Linked DNA regions of Homo sapiens. The protein of the gene in region 2 purifies or fractionates together with the protein of the main gene of each other region. This does not show direct contact. Each region holds a gene or a part of one and is shown on either strand. Other genes may lie near its edges. The genes, in order: CWC27 and IGSF6.

Region 1 (3,828 bases), on a different chromosome or scaffold from region 2:
GTGTCTTGGAGACACCCTCATAATTATTTATATTTGCAAAGTATAACTGGATATACAATGCATATTTTAAAAATTATAATCTGTATTCTAACAACTGTATTTAGTACACAGTACATAAGAAGTAGAAAGGAAGACCAGCTGATTTTTGCTTAGTCCCTTCTCCCATTGCAGGGCAGTTGGGCTGCATTTACAAGAGCTCCCTAGTGCAGACAAATTCCCTCTGGTTACAAATAGATACTATAAAAACCAAAAGGTCTTAAAGTATCTCTCCTATATTCCTAGGTAACCATTTCATCAGTTACACTAACACTGTATGTAGCAGTCAGGAGTTTGAGTCTTGCCTTTTGCTAGCTATACAGTCTTAAACTCCATTTTCTCATAAATCTAATAACATAAATTAAGGCACAGTGTCAATCTGAAGATTAAATAATATGAAAGCAAACTACACATTTTCAAGTTCAACACAAATGTGAGGTCAAACTAATATCTTCACTCAAATGCTACAAATTCATATTCAAATTTGAATATAAAATATACCCCAGTATATATCATATAATGAATATTCATCTAGACCCATAATAAGCAGCCAACCAATACTTTTTGAGCACTGTGCACATGATCAGATTTGCATTTTCAAAATGTCACTCTTACCCAGTGTGAATATATTAGAAAGAGACATGACTGGAGAGAGAGGGGGAGTGAGAGAGAGAGAGAGAAAGAAAGCAAGAGACAGCGCAAGTGCATGCGACAGAGAGCCAGTGAGAGAATGCAAGCAAGCAACTACTATCCTGAGGTCATTACATAACTATGGCTTATCTTGAGATACACAGATTCAAGAACTACTTATGAAGCAAGATCCATAAAACCCAGATATATGTTACCTGTGACGGAAAAAGGACATGAAAGAGGTCTTTATTACTTGTGTTTTCAAATTTTAGAATTTCACCATTTTCTTTCTTTTTCCTATTTCCCATTAAGTATTTCAGTGATGCTGGCTTTTTATTTTAAGATTTTCTTTATGATTTTCCTAGTTATATTCCTGTTGAATGCATGAAATTATTATACTATATATAAATGAGTAAAAATTTTCTATACTCTCTACACTATAACTTTGTATTCTAACATAGCTGGAATTTCCAATGTCCACAAATCTTCCATATCTACTATTTCTACTTCTTTGTAATTTATTAGTAATCACTATTGAACTATGCATTTATAGTTGTATTTATAGTTTATAATACTGTATATTTTGCTGCTTGCAATGTTTATTTGATTTTCTTAAATTTTTATGCATCATCACAAGTGTTTTGAAAAAGCTTTATTATTTCATTATGCACGTTCATAATATCCTCCTGAATGTTCTCCACTATTGAAAAAAGATACCTAAATGTATCTTAAATATGAAACAAAGTTCCTATTTGATTGCTGTCATTCTAGTATTTGTCACATGGTTTCTATTTCTGGCTACAATAATCTATGGGCATTATCATATATTTTGACTAATTATATTTCTTGCCCAAGTTCATAGAGGAATTTATACTTGCACTTTAAAGTAGTTATACGTTTCTTCTTCTAGAATCCTGTTTTGTGTTTAACTATGTAAATGTTATCATTAATAACTTTTTATCTAACACTCATCTTGCGACCAGTCTGCACTATCTGGTATTTTTTTAAACAAATATTTTAGTTTTGTAAAGAAATTTCTTTTAACTTATAGCATATTTATGCTTATATTTGTCACTCTAAAGAATTAGTAAACTATTATTAAAGAATAAAAGATAAGCAATGAAGTGTGGACCATGATGAGACAAGAATGATGTGAAATAAAGGTGAAGAGATTAGTAGTCACACAATGTATTAAACATTTTGATTTTCTTATCCACTTCTCCCTCTGCTCCCCACTTGTCTATAAAACAAACATAAAATTATACTCCTTCCTCACACTGGAGGAACTAATGAAATTATCAAAGCTAATAAGCTTCCCTTTCATTCCTTTATATCTTTTTTGCTCTATTTTTTAATTGATAAGTTTTTAAAAGTTCCACTCATTTTAAATGTCCACCTAACTATGCTGCAAAGACCAAAAATCTAAGATTAAGTCTGTATAATGTAGATCCTTTGGTTTTTTAAAGGCTATAAACCATCCTTTGGCTATGAACATCATTTTAGTTGAGGGCCATATCTGAGACTGCGCTCTTACTTGTTCATGTTTTATTCATTTGCTTTTAAATTCTGGAAACCATGCTTTAAAAAAATAAATATGAGTGTTTCAAGATCTAGAAACATTATGACTCGTCTAAATCATAGAAGCAAAGAACTAAAATGGGGTTTTCTGGATTATATTTTTGAAACCTTGACTTAACTTATTTAGGAGTATCCTTGTTTAAATCAGTCTTCTTAGGCTTCATGTTAGCCTTTCCAATAATAATTCTATCTCTATTCAATTAAGAGGATTGGTGAATTTGATTAAGATAATTGTTGTGGTTATTTTTAAAATTATTTTTCTATTCTTTCTTCTTTCTCCTTGCATTATTATAAATAGGGGAATAATTGTTGTAATAATTGAGTTTTATCATCACCCAACTTAAGAACCTCATTTCTTCTTCACTGTCACATTGTATCCAGATGTTTTCTGCTTCTTCCATTCACCTGGTCATGGATTGCAATTTACCATTCATTCTTTCTAATGTTTTTGTAATTTTACTCTCCTTCTGTAAAACTTGAGCTTTTGAATCTTCAAAACTTCTTACCAGAAACAAGTCTGACTTTTTCATGTCTCCTGTGTTTCTCAACTTGGTTAACAGATATTTGAGGCCTCTCTGACTGAACTACCTACCTGACTCTATTTCCTTCCTGCCTGCCACAGCAATTATTAATAATGGTCTTTGCAGATGTCCTTTCATTCTCTCTCTCTCTCTCTCTCTCTCTCTCTCTCTCTCTCTCTCTCTCTCTCTCTCGCTCCACTCCTCCCCACCTCTCTCTTTTGGAGAGGGGGTGGTATCTGGGTATTTTTCATTTCTTAAATCTTCACCTGATAATTACGTCTATTTAGAGAGATCTCATCATACCATACTACTGGATTCTCTTTCACACCTTGCTTCTGACCCAAAATGTTGTTTTCTGATACCTTGAATAAAACTGTCTCTAAAAATCAAATATAACTTAGAAGAACAATGATTTGCCACCGCTGGAGATATTCCAAACCATATGTAATGTATTCTAGAAGCCAACAAAAAGCTCTAAAAATGGAAGGTTTACTTCCCTAAGAGAATACTCTGCAGGGAAAAACACTTCAGTGGATGTATAATTCTGCAGCATTTTAAAAAAAGAAAAATAGTTACTTTATGACTCAAATCTAAAAAAACTAGAGACATTGATAATAATATCACTGGATGCTAGCTGGAAGGCTGTGTGGAGAAACTAGAATTTTGAACAGACATTTAAAAATGGGTAGACTTAAACAGTAAAAAAAGGGAAGAAAAAGCATACCAAAAGAAGGGGAACTAGTATGAGGACATGTATGAAAGTGGAAACGGAAAGGAAATGCTTAGGAAATAATGTCCAACTAAAACCATGTGGTTAGTGCAATGAGCTAGAAAGTTGGATAGCTAGGAAGCCAAGCTGCCTGAGGATTCAAATACCATATAAACAAGGAAGAGAGAAAAGAAATTAAGGATGAAAGACAGGAAGGGGAGCAGGCAAGAGGCAATTACAGTCATACAGGTGAAAGGCAGACTGGGGAAGAAATTGGTAAATTTGGTTTTACACTGGTTTTGTTATAGCTAACAGTGGAAGGCTCCAGTTGAAAAGTCCACTAGGCAATTAGAT
Region 2 (3,828 bases):
AGAATAAACTAAGGTTAAATGACATTTGAATATCAAAAGCCCATTAGAACCCTCGTAGTTTAAAAGCACAGGTTATAATACTGGATGGTCTCCCTTCCTCAGAGTCCTATTTTGAAATCGAAGGGCTGGTTGATTTTGAGTTCATGTTTTAACAATCTCTGCTCATCATACCAGGGTCCTTCCTAAGGGAAGAGACCCCAACAAGGCGAGGAGTTGCTGCTGTTCTCTTTTTTCCTTCAGAATCATGTAAAGCTTTTTCTCTGAAATTCCCCCTTTTTTTTTCTCGGGAATGTCTTAATCTCAGTTTACTCAAGGGAATGACTTGGTGAAATTACTGATAGGATTTAGCTATGTTTGATGTCCTCGCTCGGCTGAGGAATTGTCATGGGTTTTATCAAATCTCAGGAAGTGAGAGTCATCACTTTCCGTTCACTGATGTCCAGGCAGAATGGGAAGGGTCAGGGATCCCTGAGTAGCTTCTCTCCAAATCTGTGCTTATTCTCCATGTTGCATAGTTTCTGTGGGTCCAATTTATTGATCTTTTACACTTCTCTAGTGCTTTGTTCTAGGTGGTGCATTACCAGACTAGTTCCTGAGAAAGCTGATAGTTACTCACCACAAGGTTCCCTTTGGACATGGTACTTTACACTAAATCACTGTAATATACAAAAGAGGTGAACATGGTTGGTTAAACATCACCATGTAGGGAGAATAGAGCACCCAGCAAATCACTGACTTTGTGTTAGTGGATGTTCGAGATGGATTGGAGTAGTTCTTTTGTTTTTCTGAGATGGAGTCTTGCTTTGTTGCCCAGACTGGAGTGCAGTAGTGCGATCTCGGTTCACTGCAACCTTCGCCTCCTGGGTTACAAGCGATTCTCCTGCCTCAACCTCCCAAGCAGCTGGGACTACAGGTGCATGCCACCATGCGCGGCTAATTTTTGTATTTTGAGTAGAGATGGGGTTTCACCATGTTGGCCAGGCTAGTCTTGAACTCCTGACCTCAAGTGATTCGTCCACCTCAGCCTCAAAGTGCTGGGATTACAGGTGTGAGCCACCACGCCCAGCCAGTTGGAGTAGTTCTTTAGTCCAAACCTCATGGTGACTTGTGTTCAGATCACACCCATCACTGGCTAGGGTATTAACTTAGCAAATTTATCTCCTGATTTCTACATGTGAGTGAGGTAATGATTTTACAGGCCTGAACAAGATGCAATGATGCACTGAAATAAAGCCTCGCTGACTGACCTCTTACCACCAGTGTGGTCCCTCCTCCTGTCTGTTTAGCTCTCGCTTCCGGCACACTGGGGAATGCTATTCCACAGATGTAAATTGCACTGTCATTTGAAGTCACTCTGTTTACAGTGAGGGAAACTTGGTTTTCTTTGAGGGCCTCCCTCACTGTGAACTTGTCTGCCTCACTTTTGCACCCGTCCAAGCACAGGTTCTCAGGCTGGTGAGCACCGTAGCGAAACCACAGGCATGTTGGTTGCTCAGAAGGGCATCCGGTTGCGGAGAAGGTACACTTTATGGTGACGGCCTCATGAGTGTAGTCCACTTCTAGGTACCACGGTTGTGTGACAGAGAGAGTACAGGCGCCCACAGCACCTGTGGGAGGAAGCAGATGAGTGGGTTAATGGGCCTGCCACCTCACTTTGTGCTTTTATTATATTTTTGAGGTAGGAAACCCAGCCATTCTGTTATTTTTCTTACCTTAATCCCAATATAAATAAGACTAAAAATAAACACCAGTGGTCCTCACTTGCCCCAACTCCTCCTGTTTTCTGACCTTGACCTGCTGGGTCACATGATGTCTGTTCACTGGAGGCCAGCCCTAGAGAGGCTTCAGGGGAACAGAGTCCCTGTGCAGGAGGCCTGCATAGAGGTGGCACCGTATTGGACTCAGAAGTTTGGGGTCCATCTGTGACTCTTGCTCCTTACAAGCTTTCCTTCGATCCAATCACTTAATCTCCTGCCTGCTTTCTTGTCCGCACCCTGGCCTCCCCAGAGTGCTGTGTTCAGTGTGGTAACCTGTGTCCCCAGACGAACGTTGCTGCCGCTGATGGAGCCTATGAGCAGCAGCGATGTTTGTGCTTTGTGGGAGTTGAGATCGCCAGGAATTCATGGCCATTCACAATTGTTTCTTTGTGAGCCTGGTGTCCCTTTGGGAAACATGATAAAAGGCAACATGTACACCTGTGGAAATGCAGCCCTGGCTTAGCCTACCATGTCTTTGATTACTGAGCAGGGACCATATGAGCTCGCCAGGCCATAGCTAAGCAGATTTGGTTTCTCCCTGGCGTGTGTGCTGCTTTGTAGGCCCTTGTAGCATTTATCTTATTTAATTAACAATATTGTGATAAAGAGCACAGACTTGAGTTCAAATCCTAGCTCTGCCTGTTCCCAGCATTATAATCTCAGTATCTCAGTTTCCTCATTAGAAAATGGGGATAGTATTGTTGACCTCATGCAGTTAGTGTGACGTTCAAGATGATGCCTAGGAAGTGTTTACCTGCCTAAGCTATAGTAAGTATTAAATACAAGGGAGCGATTGCTGCTGCAGCCGCCACTGCTACTGTTCCCACAGTGTCAGATGGCTGTTGGAGAGATGGTTGTGGACGTCTAGCCACAAGGTGTTCACAGAGCTGGGATTAGTCACCCACTCCAGTGTACTGTCCACCATGTGGTGCTCTTCCAAGTTATGAGGATTGAGTCCCCCACCTTGGCCTTTATATCCCAGGCATGTGAAGCTGGAAAGCCACTCGAGTGCACAAATGGAAAGACCCGCCCTAAACCCTTCTTTTGCGGCAGGGGAGGCCATAGGTAAAATAGTATTGGTTGAGACAAATTGGAATTTGTCAAGTTTTTGGTCTGAGTTCCGCCTGGTCATATATTCCCAAATGGTCCTATTTGTGTGAGTTTGTCCTTTGCTACTGTAAATGAAACTGAAAAGTCATCCAAGTGGTCTGATGCTTAATTTTCAGACAGGGGCTTTTTTCTCTTAGCGTTTCTCTTATGGATCCCCATTCATAACAGCAGAGGAATTAAAGTTAGAATCATGGCGTTTGTGATGCGAGTCTCTTCTCACCATGTTTTTTTGTTTTTGTTTTCATTTTTGTTATTGTTTTTGGACAGAGTCTCTGTCTCCCAGGCTGGAGTGCAATGGTGCAATCACGGCACACTGCAACTGTGACCTCCCAGGTTCAAGCCATCATCCTGCCTTAGCTTCTCAAAAGTAGCTGGGACTGTAGGCCTGCAGCACTGTGCCCAGCTAATTTTTGTATTTTTTGTAGAGACAGGGTTTCACCTTGTTACCTAGGCTGATCTTGCACCCCTAAACTCAAGCGACCCGCTTGCCTCGGCCTTCCAAAGTGCTGGGATTACAGGTGTGAGCCACTGCGCCTTGCTCTCTTCTCATCATGTTATATTTTAGTATTTGTGCAACATGAGATGAGCTGGGAGCTCTGTGGTGACCTGATAAATGCAAACCAGACAAGAGGGTGCAGTCACCTGGAGGAGGCCTGCAAGCTTCTCTGAGCTTCGTGTCTGTGGGAGGCCCAGCTCAGCTCCATCTCCAGCCAAGGGGATTGGATTCCCTCTCAAGTCTGAGAAATACAACCTCATGTCTCCTGCCCAGACTCAAGCACCTTACAAGTACAGTGAAACATTTTATAGTATATACTGAGTGGAAATTTAAAATGGAATTGGGTCTGCCAAAACTTAGCAAAGTTAAGCACTGTCTCAGTCTCAAGTCATCTTTCAGATAATGTTTTTATTTTTATTTGTAAAATTATTTTTAAAAAGTGGACGATTCCATTATTTACACATT

The links.
Region 1: the proteins of IGSF6 (region 2) and CWC27 purify together in Homo sapiens (affinity purification with mass spectrometry; 2 studies listed by BioGRID and IntAct, with this or other methods). This does not show direct contact.

What each region holds. Positions count from the first base shown.
Region 1 is NC_000005.10:64,775,198-64,779,025, reverse strand, and holds part of CWC27 (spliceosome-associated protein CWC27 homolog), read right to left. Parts: intron 1-3,828. UniProt on the Homo sapiens protein: As part of the spliceosome, plays a role in pre-mRNA splicing. Probable inactive PPIase with no peptidyl-prolyl cis-trans isomerase activity. As a component of the minor spliceosome, involved in the splicing of U12-type introns in pre-mRNAs.
Region 2 is NC_000016.10:21,645,886-21,649,713, forward strand, and holds part of IGSF6 (immunoglobulin superfamily member 6 precursor), read right to left. Parts: intron 1,608-3,828; coding exon 1,248-1,607; exon of another isoform or gene 1,047-1,247; intron 1-1,046.